Linked DNA regions of Homo sapiens: region 1 is linked to region 2. Evidence: fine-mapped expression QTL. Tissue or cell type: cerebellar hemisphere. Region 2 holds a variant in brackets; the other region holds the start of a gene. All regions are shown on one strand. Distances are between the middles of the regions.

Evidence for each region. PIP is the estimated chance that this variant, and not a neighbour inherited with it, causes the effect.
Region 1: SKIC8 starts here. The variant in region 2 is fine-mapped to the expression of SKIC8 in cerebellar hemisphere (GTEx, PIP 0.91).

Annotation. Positions count from the first base shown.
Region 1 is chr15:78,295,365-78,305,380 of GRCh38, forward strand. SKIC8 (SKI8 subunit of superkiller complex) reads right to left here and starts at 4,245. Exons shown (of 11, transcript NM_025234.3): 1 at 4,198-4,245; 2 at 311-361. The coding sequence starts at 322. RefSeq lists enhancers at 3,443-4,410, 3,963-4,312, 4,411-5,377, 4,553-4,642.
Region 2 is chr15:78,090,251-78,100,266 of GRCh38, forward strand. SH2D7 (SH2 domain containing 7) reads left to right here and starts at 2,311. Exons shown (of 6, transcript NM_001101404.2): 1 at 2,311-2,510; 2 at 3,862-3,951; 3 at 7,679-7,844; 4 at 8,134-8,346. The coding sequence starts at 2,335. The variant C/T (reference allele first, on the strand shown) is at 5,872.

The sequences.
Region 1 (10,016 bases), 210 kb after region 2:
AAGATATGTTTCTCCTGTTCTATCTCCTATTCTGATCTTTTTTTTTTTTTTTTTGTACAACATCTTTTAAGCTTCTTCTATTACTCACTAAATTGTGGTAAAGACTTGGATGAACCAATCCTCCTCTCAGTATTTGCATTTCACTAGTCCCACCTAACACTGTGGTGACTAGGTACCCAGGGTCACCCAGCTCTTTAGGAGCCAGGCAAGAATGAGATGCTAGTTTCTTGACTACACATCCAGAAAACCTACTGGACTTGAACTTGGCAAAGAGACCAATTGATGTTTTTCCCTTCAACACAGGTCTTACCTGGTTGGTCATTTCCTTAACCAAGGATCAAGGACAAAAGGCCAGACAGCTCTGTGGAAACAACACCAGGATTTCAGTGAGGGGGTGTCATCAGGATAGAAGGCACACAGGAAGTTCCCCTTGACCAAGAAAATAAGGCAACTCTTTATTATGAAGTTGTTCTGACACCCTTCTATGGATCAGTCCCTGGAACCTCCTTCGCACTCCCTACCAGGTGGTATGGTCTTCTTTCTTCCTCTGAACCTAGGGACTCAACTAACAGCTAATTCTATCCCATGGTTTCTTCACCTCAAGTGTGACTGCAGAGAGCGACCAGTCTCTGTCCTTTCCTGCTCTTTAGAGAGAAAAAAACCACAGCTCCTTTTAATATTAAATATTATTTATTAAAAACAAACAAACAAACATGGGGGAATCCAAAGATGGCAAAGTTCTTATTTTACATGCAAAAGTCTCAACCAAAAATGCCTTTAAGAGCCAACAGGCAGGTAAATAAGGGCAGAAGCTGGAGGGAGACACGTGTCAAGAGATTGAGAACATCCTGGCTGACATGGTGAAACCACGTCTCTAATAAAAATACAAAAATTAGCTGGGTGTAGTGGCGCACACCTGTAATCCCAGCTACTCAGGAGGCTGAGGCAGGAGAATCACTTGAACCTAGGCAGCGGAGGTTGCAGTGAGCTGAAATTGTGCCACTGAACTCCAGCCTGGGTGACAGAGCGAGACTCCATCTTAAAAAATAAAAATAAAAAATAAAAAAAAAAGGATAGATCTAATTTCTCAGGCTACATTAAGGGCTAATGGTTCTTATTTCTTTGTGTGTGCCAAAGACCCCCTTTGGCGGACTTTTTTTTTTCGAGATAGGGTCTTGCTCCATCACCCAGACTGGAGTGCAGTGGCACAATCATGGTCAATGCAGCTTCAACCTCCCAGGCCAAGTCTTGCTCCCACCTCAGCCCGAGTGGCTGGGACTACAGGTGCGTGCCAACATGTCTGGATATTTTAATTTTTTGTAGAGATGGGGTCTCCCTATGTTGCCTAGGCTGGTCTTGAACTCCTGGGCTCAAGCAATCCTCCTGTCTTGGCCTCCCAAAGTGCTGGGATTACAGGTATGAGCCACCAGACTCAGGCTCAGGATGTCTTTACAGAAAATACACAGGTTTAGAAATGAAACCAATTACAGTAGGTTCTCATTATTCACAACAATTATGTTCTATGAAGTCGCTACAGACACTAAATTATCCAACACAGAACCACTGTTCCTTGGGGAAACAGGTTCCTGAAAGCCTCTGGGCACATTCTTGTCAACCAATCAATACATAATCATGTTTTATGTGTGTTTATGTTTAAAGGCACTTACTGAATATACATTAGTAATTCATTAATACTGAACTCATGCCTAAACAAAGCTTATCTAACACACATATTTTCTCCATAAGACAAATCACAATCTTCTTGCATTTAGAAGCACCTCAGCACTATGCTTGGGGGCTATCTCAAACAGTGGAATCACCGACAAAAAGCACAAAGATGAGAAAAATGTAGCACCAAAGACTGCAAAAATGACATTTGCTTACAATATGAGAGTTGACAAGAAGGCAGTGTCACCTTGTTTGACTTCAGTTGAGAACATGTGCATCAGGCAACTAAAATTTTTCACGTGAAAAAATGTCATGTCTTCCAAAGACCACAAAAGCATTGTAAGTATTAATTTGAGGGCTACAGACAAATTTTAGTAAGTAGGTGAATTCATAAATACAGAATCCACAAATAATGAGGATAGACTGTATGCTAAAATTTTATCAAAATACAAAAACATATGTGCTTCTTTACTGACACATTATATATGTGATCTAGAAGCAAATTTAATAACTACCATAATTTCGAAGTTGCAATGAGCTTACACAATATCATGATATGAAAATATCTATAATTTATATTCATAACAAAGTCACACTGCTAATAATGTGATTTGTTGCCTACATTCACAGTGGAAGAAAATGCTAAATTTCAGTTGGAGGTTAGGAAACATAAAGATGCAATTTTTCCTCTCAGCCAAGTTCACGGCCCTCGCAATTCTACCCATTGGCAGTTTAAGGGACCACACAGTTAAGGCATCCAGGTTCAGGTTACTTTCTTTAAATCTGCCAGCCTAAAAAGCTGCCGAAGGTTTTCCAATAACAGGAAATCAAACAAACAAACAATTTATAACTAATCCTTGCCTATGAAGATCTCAAATTGGTAGTGTTTTGTTTTGGTTTTGTAAAGACAAGTTCTCATTATGTTGCCCAGGCTGGTATCAAACTCCTGGCCTCAAACGATCCTCTTGTCTTGGCCTTCCAAAGTGCTGGGATTACAGACAGGTTGGTAGTGTTTTATTCATTTGTGACCCATGAACAGGGTTCTTTCTGCCCAGGGTAGGAAAGACAGGAAAGTGCTCAAGCCAGTTTGGCTAATGGGAATGGTATTCAACCTCTGCTTCAGCACAGCCTTCTGCCTGCTGAAGCACAGGCTTGTCCTCTTCCCTGTCATTCTGGGCCTCACATTTGGCAATGGATAGAAACAAAAAAAGGAGGAAGGCTTGCGGTAAGCCAGCTTCCAAAAACCCGGGCTCCAAAAGACAAGGGTGTGATTCTATCAATGAGTGCACATTTGAGGATGTACAATGAATCCGGTCCTATTTTAAGTAATACACAAAGATTTAGCTCACTGAAACCTCATAACCCCGCTTACTAGGTACAGTAGTTCTTTAGCTGAGGTTTTGATTTCCACAGTTCCAGAGGTCAACCGTAGTCCAAAAATAGGTGAGTAGAGTGCAGTAAGATATTTTGAGAGAGACCACATTCACATACATTTTATTACACTGTTATAATTCTATTTTATTATTATTGTTGTTATTCTCTTATTGTGCCTAATTTACGAATTAAACTAAGTAATCACAGGTATGTATGTGTAATCTGTATGAGAAAAAACACAGTATAGATGCTCCTCAACTTACAATGGGGTTACTTCCCAATAAACCTATGTAAAGTTGAAAAATTGTAAGTCAAACCACGGTAAGTCAGTCAGGGTCCTTCACTATCCAAGATTTCAGACATCCACTGGAACGTACACCCCGCAGATAAGGGGGGAACTACTATTTTTTTATTATCAGTTCCACTTTTCTAGTAAGAAAAGGGAGGCTTAGAAGCGGTTAAGGAAGCTTCCCCAAGGGACACTAAAAGGTGGATACAAGCTATAGTATAGGCTACCAAGATACACTACCTCTTACTTCAGGGTCTTATGAAGGTCAGAGCTAAGAGACTTTAGACCTTAGCCCTCTCTTGCCATCTTCTCTCTTTGGGAAACTTTTCCCTAAATTTCCTAGGCAGAATTCATCACTGACTCAGTGTTTCCAAGGAACACTACAGATGCCTCTATGAAACTACTCAGGCAAGTCAACAGCCCACAGTATTGCACGGTACTTGGCGTAAAGCGAACCCAGCCTCTGTCTGTACCCGTCCAGTGATGTCTGTATCTGTCCAGCACGCTACCTAAGACAGCGTGGCCCACTACTGGAAAACTTCGGTTAATACAGCCCTCCCAGCTACGGATAAATGATCTCCTCCGCAGAGAAACCAGCCCTAATCTCGATACTGCCCAGAACATTCTCAGGACGCAAAAGGAGGCCACCCACGGGCCTCCCCCACTCCCCTCAGGCCCCGTACACCGAGGAACAGCCAGGGCAAATGGAGCCATGGAAGCCACCCTCAGGCCCCAGGGCCTGGAGCATCCCTGAACGGACCTGCTTACAGGCAGCCTCGGGCCCAACCTCGCTCACTCGCCCTCTGGCCTGGACTGTCAACGGCCCTAATGACCCCAATCCCCAACGGCCCTGCGCTCCAACTCACCACTGCACTGCCAGGCTGCACGTCGGAAGCCGGGCTCCGCGCGACTGCGACGCGCAAAGATGAGCTATCGAAGGGGCGGGGCATCGCGCCGGCCCCGCCCTCACGGCTCGGAGCACTCCGCAGCGCCCGTTGCCGTCGCTATGGCGGGCGCGGGGCAGACGCCGACGAGGGTGGGCGGAGAGAGGAGGGAGGAAGCCAGGTCCTGCTTCCAGAGGAGTGGTAGTTGGAAATTTGCTTCCGGAAGCGCAGACGTTTAGCTTCCGGCAACTGCAGGTTTAGAGGTTTGTGTTGCAATTTCATTTTGTACTTTTGAGATTGGACTAAAGCTAATAACTTCTGTTGCTGAAATAAATTCAGTGAAATCGAGCTTTGTCTTTCAAACTGCTAGTCATGACCCATTAACGTGACAGATATCAGTTTAATAGGTTGTCAACTGACTTTTTTTTTTTTTTTTTTTGAGGGCCAGGCAGAGTAGCTCACGTCTGTAATCCCAGGACTTTGGGAGCCGAGGTGAGAGGCTTGCTTGAGCTCTGGGTTTCCAGACCAGCCTGGGCAACATAGCGAGAGACCTCGTGTCTACTAAAAATAAAAACAATTAGCACATGCCTGTAGTTCCAGTTACTTGGGAGGCTGAGGCAGGAGGATCGCTTAAGCCCTGGAGGTTGAGGCTACATTGAGCCGTGATGACGCCACTGCACTCCAGCCTGGGGAACAGAACTAGACCCCGTCTCAAAAAAAAAAAAAGAGATGGGGCTGGGTGTGGTGGCTCATGCCTGTAATCCCAGCATTTTGGGAGTCGGAGTGGGTGGATCACTTGAGGTTAGGAGTTTTGAAATCAACCTGGCCAATATGGTGAAACCCCGTCTCAAGTAAAAAAAAAAAAAACAGAAACAAAAACAAAATTAGCCGGGTGTGGTGGCATGTGCCCGTAATCCCAGCTACTTGGGAGGCTGAGGCAGGAGAATCGCTTGAACCCTGGAGGCAGAAGTTGCAGTGAGCACAGATCACACCACTGCACTCCAGCCTGGGCAACAGAGTGAGACTGTCTCGAATAACAACAACAAAAAAAGATGGGAAGAGGCTCATGCCCCATTATGGAGGCCGCCCTGTGGCTCAGATGTGGTGGCTCACTCCTGTAATCCCAGCACTTTGGGAGGCCAAGGGGGGAGGATTGCTTCTGGCCGTGATTTCAAGACCAGTATGGGCAACATGGCGAGACCCAATCTCTACAAAAAATTTTAAAGTTACAGACGCAGTGGTGTGCACGTGTAGACCCAGCTGCTCAGGAGGCAGAAGTGAGGATCACTTGAGCCCAGGAGTTTGAGGCTGCAGTGAGCTATGATTGGGCCACTGCACTGTAGCCTGGGTGACAGAGTGAGACCCTGGCTCTAAAAAATATTTTTCGAAAAAACTAGTTTTGAAGTTCAAATATATATATAGAGAGAGAGACGGAGGACTATTAGACCACTTACAACTAGGTGAAGTTCATCTTTGGGGGCTTTTTTTTCTTTTGAGACTGAGTCTTGCTGTGTCACCCAGGCTGGAGTGCAGTGGCGCAATCTCGGCTCACTACAACTTCTGCCTCCTGGGTTCAAGTGATTCTCCTGCCTCAGCCTCCCCAGTAGCTGGGACTACAGGCACCCACCACCACACCCGGCTAATTTTTTTTTGTATTTTTTTTTTTAGTAGAGACGGGGTTTCACCATGTTGGCCAGGCTGGTCTCAAACTCCTGACCTCAGGTGCTCCACCCACCTCTGCCTCCCAAGTTGCTGGGATTACAGGCATGAGCCACTGCACCTGGCCATCTTTGGGGGCTTTTTGAGGAGGCTATGTGTGGTGAGAAATTGGCAAATACACCCACATCTCCCAGGACCTATTCTCTTGTCCTCAGTAATCTCACATTAACACAAAAGAGAAGACATCCTGCAGCTCTTCTGCTGCACACATGACTTCCCTGCATGCCAGCATCCTTAACCCTCAAGTTCACATGTTTCAGAGTGATATGACTAATTTTTCTCAGTCACATTGACTGGAGAGCTATTTCTCTCCTTCCCAGCTCTGTGACATCTCTGTCCATAGAAATTTCATCCAGCCCCAGTGGACCCTCTGCATGTCACTGGCTTAAAAAGTTTGGGTCAAAGTGAGCAGACTTCAAGACTGAATTGTCAAAATTCTTATGTGGCATCTCTTATAAGTCAAGATATCCTTGTAACCATTCTGGATCTATTGGACCAGGGTCAGGCATGTGCCCCTGAAGCTAAGGAAGAATGTACAAATTATATCATGAAGCCAGTGAGCTGATTTTCAAACTTAGATTGACTTAAGTGCTGACTGGTGTTCGGGCACATTCCACAGAGCTAAATACACAGAAACTGACCCTGCAATGGCTGGGATGTGGGTTCCTGAAGTGTGGAAAGGAATTAACATTAGTACTACAAAGCAATGGCTTTTAGCAGTTAAATGAGTGACCTGCTGCCTTCCTGTATAACCAGTTGCCTTAGTTTTGGCCAATCTGCTGCTTTGTTTTTGTTGGTGACATTTACGGGTTTTTGTGGGTTTTGGAAATAGATTATTATGTAACCTCTCCCACACCGAGATAATTGGGCCATCTTCACTCTAACTTTTAGCTTTTGAATATGAAGAAGTATTTTTGAAAGACTCCTACTTTAAGAAGGGTGAAATTTTGGCTGTCAAAAGTGCTCACAACTGTATGACTAAGTGAATTTTAATTTGTGTGATCTGGGGTTATGTAAGGTTTTTTTTCTTTTCTACACATTAACTTTAAATACCCCACCTTCAAATTATTCTAAAAGCACACTGATCACATTTATGCCTTTTAACTTAAAATTTAATTAAAATTTAAAATTAAAAAAGCATAAATGTGATCAGTGTGCTTTTAGAATAATTAAGCCAAATACTAAGGCTTTCCATTTCTGTTTACTTGCTCCCAAATCTGCTACTAATAATTTTCAATTGAAGCCAGTTGTTTTGGATAAAAATTCAATTAATCATCTCAAAAAAGAGAAATGGAATACATTAAGAAAGAAGTAGAATAGAAGATATAAGAGTGCATCATACATAGTAAAGTTACATCATGTTTTATAAAAACTGTTTCACCCATGCGGTTACTGGGTCACAAGTGAAAATCCATTTCTTGCTATGAGTCATGGCCAAACACTTTGAAAATCATTGTAATAAAGACTTTCTAAAGACTTTCCAGCTTTATAATTCTATAATTATGACAAGAACTCCAAACCATTCATTCAAAAAGGATGTATTAAGTACCTACTTTCACCACATTCCCCCAGAGGGCCAGACATATGGGATCATTGGCATGACCTTAGCATTGGGACTATAAAGCTAGAATAATTGGCCTTTTTTACACTGTGGACGTCTCAGGCATCTGATGAAACCAATGAATCCTGTCCCAGAACAATGGGGTTTTTTGGAAGAAAAAATTTTAATTGCTGTTGCAAAAAAACATCAGTATGGAGTAGAAATTGGTTTCTATGGCATTATTAGAGAATATGTTCTAGAAAGTGGAGGTAACTGGATGTAAGATTCTGGCAGCAGTTTAATAGATAACAGTCCCAGATGTTTAGGTTGAGGCCAACGCCTAATTAGGGTGAACGGTTTGTGCGTGTGTAATTTTGGACAATATCTGGAGAAAGGTTACACTGTGCACAAACCAAATTTAATTTTTTTCACAAGTGTTGTAAAGTTTCTTATAATAAAAGGTTTTTGCTACATGCACTTCATTTTCACATTAAGAGTGTTTAGAATACCTAGACACAAAAGAGAGCATTCATGCAAGATATGCTACTCCTTGATATAATAATGCATACAGTTCAAAATGTTTACCCTTTTTTTTTTTTTTTTTTTGAGACAGAGTCTCGCTCTGTCGCCCAGGCTGGAGTGCAGTGACGCGATCCCGGCACACTGCAAGCTCCGCCTCCTGGGTTCACGCCATTCTCCTGCCTCAGCCTCCTGAGTAGCTGGGACTGCAGGCCCCCGCGACCACGCCCGGCTAATTTTCTTTTGTGTTTTTTTTAGTAGAGACGGGGTTTCACTGTGTTAGCCAGGATGGTCTCGATCTCCTGACCTCGTGATCCACCTGCCTTGGCCTCCCGAAGTGCTGGGATTACAGGCGTGAGCCACCGCGCCCGGCCACTGTTTACACTATTGTTGCAGTAGCTGCTGCCATCACCGGGCTGCGGCAGGGAGGCACAGCTGGGGCTGCATGCTGGTGGATGCCTCCCCCTTCTGAGTTGGGGAGAGCTCCCCAGGTGCTGCTGCAGCCGCCCAAACAGCAGTTGCAGATCCAGGCCTCCTGCTTTACGGAGCAGGCAGGGTCGCCACCCTCCTGGGCGGGGCTACAACTGCCCAAACAGCGGCTGTGGATCCGAGCCTCCCGGTGCTCTTGGAGGGGGCTGGGAGCAGGCAAGATCTGCCCTCCTAGGTGCAGGACCCAGAGGGTCTCTGCAGCCTGCACCCTCGTGGACCCCAGAAAGGACCCCACCGCACCCCGTCGCTAGGGGGTGTCTGTTCCTGCTGCCTGGCCTCTCTCTGCTGCCGCCCCTGCTCTGATCATGGAGCAGGGCTTGGGGCCAAGCCCCAGGGGCCATGAATGACAGTAGGAGGCAGATCGATTCCTGGGCAGAAGGGGGTAGGTCTCCAGTAAGGCCCCACCTTCAGGTCAGGGAGGGACTGAAGACTGGGGACCAGGCTGCCAGTCCCACAGACCTGAGTGGGAGCTTGTGGTGCCTCCTCCAGGCTCACCCATGGCCGCCCATGGGCCAGTCAGCACACACTTCCTCCCTTCTGAGGTCCATAAAAGCCCTGGGCTCAGCCAAACTGCAGGAGAGGATGGAGAGACAGCGGGAAGAGTAGCTGTAGAAAGGAGCTACCCTCTCTGCCAGAGCTGCAGAGACCTGCAGAGCCTTTCAAAGGACCTGCGGAGAGGAGGCCCCCCTCCTCCTGTAGAGACTTCCAAATGACCTGAGGAGAGGATCCCCCAGAACAGCCTCCTTCTCCAGGAGCACCCCCCGCCAGGATCCCCTAGAGCAGTCCCCCTCTCCAGGGTTGGGTCTTCTCTCTGCTGAGAGCAGCCCCCCTCTACAGGGTGAGGTCTTCTTTTTGCTGAGAGCAGCTCCCCTCTCCAGGGTTGGGTCTTCTTTCTGCTGAGAGCAGCAGGTGGCAGGATAACCAGTGGGCAGAGGGGGAGCTACCCTCTCCAGGCCTCCTGTCTGCTGAGAGCTGAACACTCCATGGGATGACTTGCTCAGAGGAGCTACCCACTGCGGGTCTTCTCTGAGCTGCTTAACACTCAGTAAGTTCTTCGAGTACCTCATTATTCCTGGACACAGGACAAGAACTCAGGCAAAGGCGCTCCCAGGAAGAAAATCAATACCTCCCACACCCGTCCAAAGATCCCGTAACACTACCATTACATCTGAGGCTTTCTGCAACTACAAGGGGGTGGTGGAAAGCTTGGCCCTCAGTATCAACATCAAGAAAGCAGCTACCACCGTCTCTGCCTGTTCTCTTTTTGCATTTTTTTCTTTCATTTTTCTTAATCACCTCTGCTATTGCTGCTGCTTAGCAAAACTGGTAAAAACAAAATTGTAATCACTGATGCATCACCCAGATAATCCTCAAATTCCTGCCAGGGAATCCTCTCAGATTCTCTCCAGCGTGCTGTAAAAACCACCGAAGTCATTTGGGCCAGTGCTGGCAGCAGCCCTCCTGAGTCTGAGTTCCCACTCAAAGGTCATGAGATCACAGAACAGCCAGGTGGGGCAGAATAATGTTTTCAAGT
Region 2 (10,016 bases):
ACAAAAAATTAGCCAGGCATGGTGGCACGCGCCTGTAGTCCCAGCTACTCAGGAGGCTGAGGCAGGAAAATCGCTTGAACCCAGGAGGCAGAGGTTGCAGTGAACGGAGATCGTGCCACTGCATTCCAGCCTGGGCGACAGAGCGAGGCTCTGTCTCTAAATAAATAAATAAATAAGATGAGAAAGAGCTGCCCAGATTGAGATCACAGGTTTGCCTCATGTCCTTGCGTGTTCTCTACACTATAAGCCTCACACACACCCTCACAGGCATTTTTATCTTGATTTCAGATAACCCATGATGATGTTGTAATAATAACAATAATTATAATTATCAACAGGAGCAGACCTTCTGTATTTCAGAATCTTGCATCACCATCATCATCATCATCATCATCATCATCATCATCATCATCAAATTAATAGCTAATCCTAGTCACTATGTTATTCCACACACTGTTCTAAGGATTTAACTAATCTAACCTTCCTAACAGCAGGACAAGTTAGATCATTTGGTTAAGGTCATATAGCTAGTATGCTGGAATTTGAACCAAGGAAATCTGGCTGTAACACCCTCATTTTTTTAAACTTTTTCACTGAAGTAGAACATAGACATAGAAAAATGCATGAACCATGAATCTTCACACAGTGAGCACTCTCACTCAACTCACTCAATCCACACTCACTCAACCCACCAACCAGATCAAGAAACAGAACACTGTCAGCACCAGCAGCTTTTCGCTCCCCACCCAGTCCCCAAGGTAACCACTATCTTAACTTCTATCGCCATTGATTAGTTCTGCCTTTTTCTTTTTAGATACAGGGGCTCACTATGTTGCCCAGGCTGGCCATGAACTCCTGGCCTCAAGTGATCCTCCCACCTTGTGCTCCCAAAGTACTGGGATTACAGGTCTGGCCTCAAGGAAAAATGAAACCAAGCATCTCTGTCTTACTTCAGAATGAGTTAGACAGAGATAGTTATATATCAAGGGCTTTAAGCAGGGGAAATGACAACAAATCACTTCAGTCATATTGTAACAGTACCTGCATCCTATTTTTGAACTTATATAAATGCCCCTTCATTATCAACCATTATGCCCTCTCACTTAGTCCTCATAATGACCCTAGAGTCTAGAAAATAGCTTTGCCTCATGCCCATTTTACAGATGAGGAAATTGAGTTCTCTGCAACAATTTAGTAAGTTTCTTGAGACCCCACGTCAGTCCCAGCTACTTGCCCAGGGTGGTCTCACATCAGTGTGTGGTGGAAGTGGGAGTATCACCAAGATCCTTGAGGCTGACTGCACCATCTGCTGCCTTACCATCCACCCGGCCTGGATTTCTGCTAGGAAACTCAGAAACACATTAGATACTCAGGGATGTTTGTGTGAACAAATGGTCCCATTGCCCTAACTGCTCCAAAGCTTCCTACCACAGGCCTATCCCTGCCTTTCCAGGGGACCCATCTACTCCAAAGTCCCCTCTCTGTTAAAACGACATGAGCTTCTGTTTTTTCTTCAAAATCTGCAACAAAGTCCCACCTCTTCGTCTTTGCACATGCTTTCCCCCTGCTGACAAGAGTCTACTCCCCTAGGTACATGCTTGGCTTCCTCCTTCACTGTTCAGTGTCACCTCCTGGACAAGGCTGACCCCGACCCCTGACTCTGTGTCTGCATAATGCAGCCCATGTGCTCTCTTGTTCTTCTGCCTTTGTCTTGGAGTGCTTATTCCATTTGACTCTATATTCTACACATATATTTGTTTGTCTCCCTCTAGAATGTATGTGCCATGAGGGCAAAGTGCTGTTTTATTCACTGCTTTATTCCCAGGGCCCAGATTTACATGGCACACAGTAAGGACTCAATAAATCTTGAGTGGATGGAAGACTTGGTTAGCACAGAACTTCTCCATCAAAATAAAAATAGCCTCCACGAAGGAAGGATACCTAGAATTTAAATCCACTGCTTTGCTCCCAGGGGCAGTGCTGTGGACTTTTGCCAGGGTCTGATCTTTAGTTGTGACAAAGACAGGAGGTTGTGGGGAACAGGGCCAAACCCAGTGAGGTAGCTTATCTGCTGGCCAGGAAGCCACGGAGGGCCTTCCCTACCCCTCTCAGGCTGCTACGGTGATTGTTCCCCCATGTCTGCAGCCAGCCAAGGTGCCCCACCCCAAAGCATCAGAGGAGAGAACCAGCCACCAGCCCAGAGGTGACAATGGGGCTGCTGTGTGCTATGGGCCCTTGGGTAGGGCACGGGCTCAGGCAAATGAGCCAGAGCACACGCAGATATAGAGGCATGTGCACTGGCTGCGCTCTGCTTCCACTCTGGTGCCTGCCAGCATGGAGGACAGCCTAAAGCAGCTCAGCCTGGGGAGAGATCCTGAGGGGGCAGGGGACAGCCAGGCCCTGGCTGAGCTCCAGGAGCTTGCCCTGAAGTGGTTCATGGAGACACAGGCCCCCTTCATTCTGCAGAACGGTGCCCTGCCTCCCTGGTTTCATGGATTCATCACCCGCAAGTAAGGCTGCTTCTACCCACAGGTCCCTCATAGCCCACAGCCCCTTGGGGCTGAGAAAATGGTCTGGGAACTCTGGATCAGACTGGTTCCCATCCTTTCCCTGGGCTAGGCAGGGGCCCTTGGAGGCGGGGGGCAGGGGAACAGACTGAGGAGCGCCACATCCTCTGGTGGTGGCTTCTGTAGGCAGAGTCGGGGAGGGCAACGGCCTCTACTTTAGTACAAGTTGAGGATGGCTGGGGCTGCCAGGCTGCCAGAGGACAGAAAGAGGGCCAGGCCCTGACTTGATGAGTAACTAGGGGACCATATCTTTTATCGTCCAAACCGGAACACTATTAGTAACTAAGCTAGGAGAACCGTCATAAATGGGGCCATCCCAGGCAAACCTGGATGCATGGTTATCCTAGGTATAAAGGCCAAGATACAGGTTTGGCTTTCTATTTGGGCTGGGTCTCCAAGCAGCCAAAACACCTGATGAAGGAATGGCAAATCCAGCCAGTCCTTAGGTCCTGGCACAGCACCTGCACAGAGCCAGGGCCAGCTTTATGGTCACTGACTCGTGCAGCAGCACAGGGTCAAAAGGGCTCCACATTTGGTTTAATGCTCTGCTGTCACTGTCTGGAAACTCTAAATCGTTTTGAACCAGGGGCCCCATGTTTTCATTTAGCACCTGGTCCTGCAAATGATTTAGCTGCGTAGAACAGGCGCTCGGTATTTGGTGAGTAAGTGAGTGAGGGAATACATATCTGGTCTGTGTACTGCCAAACCACAAGACAGCTGGAACTTTTCTTCATGCCTCCAAAGTATTTGGCACCATGTGGAAAATCTCTGTAACTGCCTGGGATTGAAGGGGACAGGAAGAGGAATGAGTCCCTTTTAGCTGCTTCAGACACAGCAGCATCTTCTCCCTGCAGAAGCTTGTGTGTAGTGCACATCCTGCAGCACTGTACACAGTGGTTCTGAGGGAGGGACTCCCCACTAAACCTCAACATCTCCAGCTGTGTGGATTTATTCTTGCTACACAACCATCCAGGTGGAGAGTGGGTGGCCAGGGTCAGCAACCAATGTGCCTGCTAGTGAGGCTGCAGTGGGGAGTTGGGGGGGTTGCATATGGCTTCAGACCCTGACCCAGCCCCAGACAGTCTTGAACTTAATCATTTGGGCTCAGATAGGCCACATGCTGAACCCTGACAGGCCACAGACCCATCCACAGGTCTGAGTGGCTCCTCTATAAAGGGTTGGAGGTCTGGAACCCAAAGGCATGGCCAGCAGGGATTCCAAGAGAGGCCTAAGTCAGGCTGCACCTGCTGCCATTAGGGCACAGACCCCAGCTAATGGCATGTCTTCTGCCCAGGCAGACGGAGCAGCTACTCAGGGACAAAGCTCTTGGTTCCTTCCTTATCCGCCTCAGTGACCGAGCCACTGGCTACATCTTGTCCTACAGGTAAGAGGGGAAGCCCTCTGGGCAAGCAAGCTCATCCTACCATAACCTAGCCTTGCAGATTAGTGCAGAGGCCCCACTGGCCCAAATTGCCTAGATTTCCCTGGGTCCTGACTCCTGAATCCCTCAATCATCCATCACATGCTCAGCAGACACTTCCTGAGCAGCACTGGCCATATACTAGGGATGAAGACACGGCCTTCAAAGGAGGTGAGTGGGGTTCGGGGAGGCTTCACAGAGGTGAACTTTGAGCCTAGGATAGAAGGAAGAATACAAGTTGCTAGGCAGAAAGGAGGGTGTGGTTGGGGTTTAGGAGGGTATCTCTGGTAGATGGAACGCCATGTGCAAAAATACAGAGGCATGAAAGACAAGGGTGCTGGGGGAGCTGCAGGGTGCTGGGGGAGCTGCAGGTTGCTGGGTGCAGCAGAACACTTGGTTCCTTTGGAGGAATGCCTGGAAGGGAGGGTGGAAAAAGCTTAGAATGGCCTTGGATGCCTGGCTAAGTCTGTAGACCATGAAGGATGATCTGGTTCAATGTATTTGCATAGGTCCTTTAGGCAGCCTATGGAGAGAGGACTGGAAGTCAGAGCTGGAGGTGTGGGGGCACTGGGGACTCCTGCAATTGCCTGGATGTGAGATAATGAGGTCTAGGCTAGGGTAAGACAGTGGGGATAGAGAGAAGGAGACAAGGTAGCGAGGACAAAGGCAAAGATGGTGATGTCAGATCTTGTCCCAAGAGTAGGTTGGTCAGGACGGGGAATTCAGAGGAGGTAAGAAGGCTTCCCTAAGTAGGGAGGGAGGCCAGGGCTCCAGAGTAAACTTAAAAGGCTTCAGATTCTGATTCAAAATTGTCACATATTCAGACTGCCCCAGTTCAAACCCTTACCTTGAGCAAGTTACTTTGCTTCTCTGTTCCCCCGTTTCCTCATCTGTAAAATGGGAATATGATAGTACCTGCTTCATAGGCTTGATGAAAGTGTGCAATCAGTTGATACGTTTAAAACTGTTTAACACAATGCATAAAATGTAGTAAGGACTTTAAATAAATGTTAATCATTGTTAAAATATTTTTATTCTGTGTGCCAGACACTGTGCTAGGCATTTTGAAATATACTAACTCAGTAGTTTTCAAATGTCTTTTGAGCTTTGGGGATTTTTTTATTTTCTTTTGTTTTGTTTCTTCCCAGGTGAGATCTTAGGGAGAATACTAACTTATAAAAGAGACCAAAGTGGGACCGCCCAAAGGTATACAAATAGAAAAATTAACAGAATAGAGTCCCAAAATAGTCCCAAATGTTTGGTTACCAGATTTACAACAGAGGCATCACTGCAATTCCGTGGGGGAAAGGCTTGTTTTTTCAATAATTGGTGCAGGAGCAATTGGATATCTAAATGGAAAACAATTACTGCTACCTCATACCATACATGAAAATTAATTAATTCTAGATGGATCGTAGATCCAAGAAAGAAAAGCAAAACAATACCATTTCTAGAAGAAAACAGGAAAACATTGTCATAGGTAAATGAAAATGCCTTTGAAAATGAGAGGCCAAGTTTTTTTAAACAGGACACAAAAAGCGCTAATCTTAAAAGAGTGATTAACTTGATTTCCTTAAAATTAAGAATTTTTTAAAATTTATTTATTTATTTATTTATTTTTTGGAGACAGAGTCTCGCTCTCTCGCTCTGGCTGGAGTGCAGTGGCGCGATCTCTGCTCACTGCCACCTTTGCCTCCCGGGTTCAAGCAATTCTCCTGTCTCAGCCTCCCAACTAGCTGGGACTACAGGCACACGCCACCACACCCAGCTAATTTTTGTATTTTTAGTAGAGATGGGGTTTCACCATATTGGTCAGGCTGGTCTCAATCTCCTGACCTTGGGTGATCCACCTGCCTCAGCCTCCCAAAGTGCTGGGATTACAGG[C/T]GTGAGCCACTGCACCTAGCCAAAATTAAGAATTTTTATAATTCTTATAAAGAGATATTATTAAGAGAAGAAAAAGGTCAGGGTGCAGTCTTGAAGAAGTTATCTATTAGAATACAAATATCTAACAAAGGACTCAAATCCAGAATATATAAAGAACTCCTACAAATAAATAAGCAAAAATAGATAATTCAATAAGTAAAAGCAAAAGAACTGAGCAGGCACTTTACCAAAAAGAAAAACCCAGAAGGCCCATAAGCATATGAAAACATGTTCAGCATCATTAGCTATCAGGGAAACACAAATTAAAGCCACAATGGATGGCTATAATGGAAAGACAGAATATGTGGAACAACTGGAGCTCTCATACATTGCAATAATTTTATTTTATTTTTGAGATGGAGTTTCACTCTTGTCACCTAGCTGGAGTGCAATGGCACAATCTCAGCCCACTGCAACCTCCGCCTCCAGGGTTCAAGCAATTTTCCTACCTCAGCCTCCAGAGTAGCTGGGATTACAGGCAACCACCACGACACCGGCTATTTTTTTTTTTTTAATTTTTAGTAGAGATGGGGTTTCACTATATTGATCAAGCTGGTCTTGAACTCCTGACCTCAAGTGATTTGCCTGCCTCGGCCCCTCAAAGTGCTGGGATTACAGGCATGAGCCACTGCACCTGGCGCATTGCAATAATTTTAGAAAGCAATTTGGCATGATTTACTAAAGCCAAACACGGGTGTACCCTTGACCCATCAACTCTACTCCTTGGTATATTCACATCAGAAATGAGTACATATTCACCAAAAGATATGCACAAGAATGCTCACAGCAGCTTTATTTATAACAGCCCAAATCCGGAAACTACCTAAATGTCTATCATCAGAATAGGTACATGGTGGATTTTTCATTAACTAGAATACTACATATAAATGAGAAAAAAAAGAAACTAATTCTACTTGGACATGAATCAATCTCCAAGATATAATGTTGAGTGAAATGTGCTAGACACAAAAGAGAAGTATTATAGAAGTTCTCTAATGGGCAAGACTAATCTATGCTGATAGGCGTCGGAATGGTGGCTACCTTTAGGGGGCATTGACTGGATGGGAGCGCAAGTAGGTCTTCTGGGGGCTGGAAGGGTTTTGTATCTTGACCTGAGTGGCAGTTACATGGGAGGGTTCCTATATGGAAATTCATCAAGCTGCACATTTATAATGTACACACATCACTGTGTAGAGGTTATTCTTCTAGGAAAAAGGGAGATGAAGAGGGTAGGATTTTAGGGTGGGACTTTACAGGCCGAAGAGGGGGTGGGAGCTGGAACTCCATCATTGCAGCAGGGTGGGGAGTAGGGTGAGGTTGAGTTGTACAGGTGCAGGGTTGGATCCTGTCTTTATTTAAAACTTTGGTGTTTTGTTCATTGTGGATTTTTTTCATATATTTTGATTTTCTAAAATACTGCGTTATTAGTTTTCTTTATTGAGTTTTTTGGTGCCCCTTTAAATTTCGCACCTAAGATGAGTGCCTCACTTGCCTCACTCCAGTCACAGCCGTGCTCTCCCTGACTCCACCAGAGCAGGCTTAGGTACTTCCCAGGATCCCAGGGCTCCACGGTTTGAAAACCTCTCCGTAGCTTCCTGATGAACACACCATGGCTCCAAGTGGGGTACAGTGGCCCCAGGTCAGGCAGGTCTGTTCTGGATCAAGAGCTGGGACCCCTCACCTGCACCCAGGCACAGAGCTCAGACCCTGGGCCAAGGCTGGGCTGCCTGTGACCAGCAGCCCCAGACCACAAGCACTTGTGTTGCAGGGGCAGTGATCGCTGCCGACATTTTGTCATCAACCAGCTTCGAAACCGGCGTTACATCATCTCAGGAGACACCCAGAGCCACAGCACCCTGGCTGAGCTTGTGCACCATTACCAGGAGGCACAGCTCGAGCCCTTCAAAGAGATGCTGACTGCTGCCTGCCCCCGGGTAGGCGCCCCACTTCCCCAGGGTGAGGGTGGCAGGGCAGAGAGCCCAGGCCTGGGGTATCCATCACTCAGACATACTCCTTTTCAAGCCCTCCCTATTTACTATCACCCAGGGGCACTTGGTGTGGGGTCATGATCCCTATTGGAAAAAGGGAGACTGTGGCAATGTCTTACCTGAGGTCAGAGACCTGGTGGGAATGTTGCAGTCTCTTACCAGCAGTCTCAGGCAGGCAGCTGGAGACTGGCTGGGCATGTGTGACCACATACCTGCCGTATCCGCATGCTCCCAGCCAGAGGACAATGATCTGTATGATGCCATCACCCGGGGCCTCCACCAGACCATCGTGGACCCAGAAAACCCACCTGCCACGGCATTCCTCACAGTGGTCCCCGACAAGGCCGCCAGCCCCCGCTCTTCTCCAAAGCCCCAGGTCTCCTTCCTCCATGCACAGAAAAGCCTGGATGTGAGTCCCCGGAACCTCTCCCAGGAGGAAAGCATGGAGGTGAGGAGCATTATGGGCCACCTAGAGTCAGGGTTGCCAGACCAGGGATGTGGGTGCCATGCTCCCAGTCAGACCCTGAGGCCAGGCCAGCCACTCCCTCCGGCTGTGGAGGGTGAGCCAGGCCCAGAGGTGCGGACCCAGCTTGGAATCACCCAGGGTTCACCCGTGCCATGGCCTGCCTGTGGCCAGTTAGATTTGGTTCAAGCCTTGGCTTGGCCATTTTCTAGCGATGTGGCTTTAGGCGAGTCACATAATTTCTCTGAGCCTCAGTTTACCATGCCTGAGGTTCTTGTGAAGCTTGAATGAGAAAATGGATATGAAATGCCTGAATATCCCTTAGTAAGCTGTAGCATGGGGTGCCTGTGAGTCAATATTTTATTCTTCTCCATAGCACCCCATGGACTCAGAAAGATTTTTCTTTTCTTTTTTTTTTTTGAGACAGAGTCTCGCTGCAATGCCCAGGCTGGAGTGCAATGGTGCAATCTCAGCTCACTGCAATCTCCGCCGTCTCCTGGGTTCAAGTGATTCTCCTGCCTCAGCCACCCGAGGAGCTGGGATTACAGGCACCTGCCACCACACCCGTCTAATTTTTGTATTTTTGGTAGTAACAGGGTTTCAACATATTGGCCAGGCTGGTCTTGAACTCTTGACCTCAAGTGATCCGCCCGCCTTGGCTAAAGTGCTGGGATTACAGGCATGAGCCACTGTGCCCAGCCATTTTTATTTTTATTTTTGAGACAGAGTCTCGCTCTGTTACCCAGACTAGAGGGCAGTGGCACCATCTCGGCTCACTGCAATCTCTGCATCCTGGATCCAAGTGATTTCCCCTGCCTGCGCCTCCTGAGTAGCTGGGATTACAGGTGCACGCCACCATGCCTGGCTAATTTTTTTTTTTTTTTTTTGTATTTTTAGTAGAGACGGGTTTTCGCCATGTTGGCCAGGCTGGACTTGAACTCTTGACTTCAGGTGATCCGCCTACCTCGGCCTCCCAAAGTGCTAGGATTACAAGCGTGAGCCACAGCGCTTGGCCGAAGGATTTTTCTTTATATCAGATCACAGCATGCCAACAGCTTCTCCTCATATTTAGAATAAAACCTAAACACTTCACTGGGGCCCACAAGAGCCTCACCAGATGCCCTGCTACCCTCTGCTTCTTCACTGGAGGCTTCAGTGAGGCCTTTTCATTGGCTTCTTTGGCCTTCTAGATCATCCTTGAACATACCAACCTTGCTCCCACCTCAGGGCCTCTGCACTGGCTCTACCATCTGCCTGCAATGCTCTTCCTACAAGATATCTGCATGGTTTACACTCTAACTGCATTCCATTCTCTTCTTAAATATCACCTCCTCAGAAAGGCCCACCTACATGACAGAAAATGTTGCCTTCCCCACCTGCCGTTCTCTCTATCCCATGACCCTGCTTCGTTCTTTGTAGCACTGATCATGCCCCCACACTCCATTGTCTTGTGATATATTCACCCATCATATAGCACATCAAACCATATTGTGCTACACAGCGCAGCAGTAGGCTGCCCATCTCCCAGATTAGAATATAAACTCCCAAGAGTTAGTCTTGCTCACCAGAGTCCTTGGCACCTAGGACACTGTCTGGCACATAGTTGGTGCTCACTAAATATTTGTCAAATGAGTGATGGACTTGGAGATGGGCCA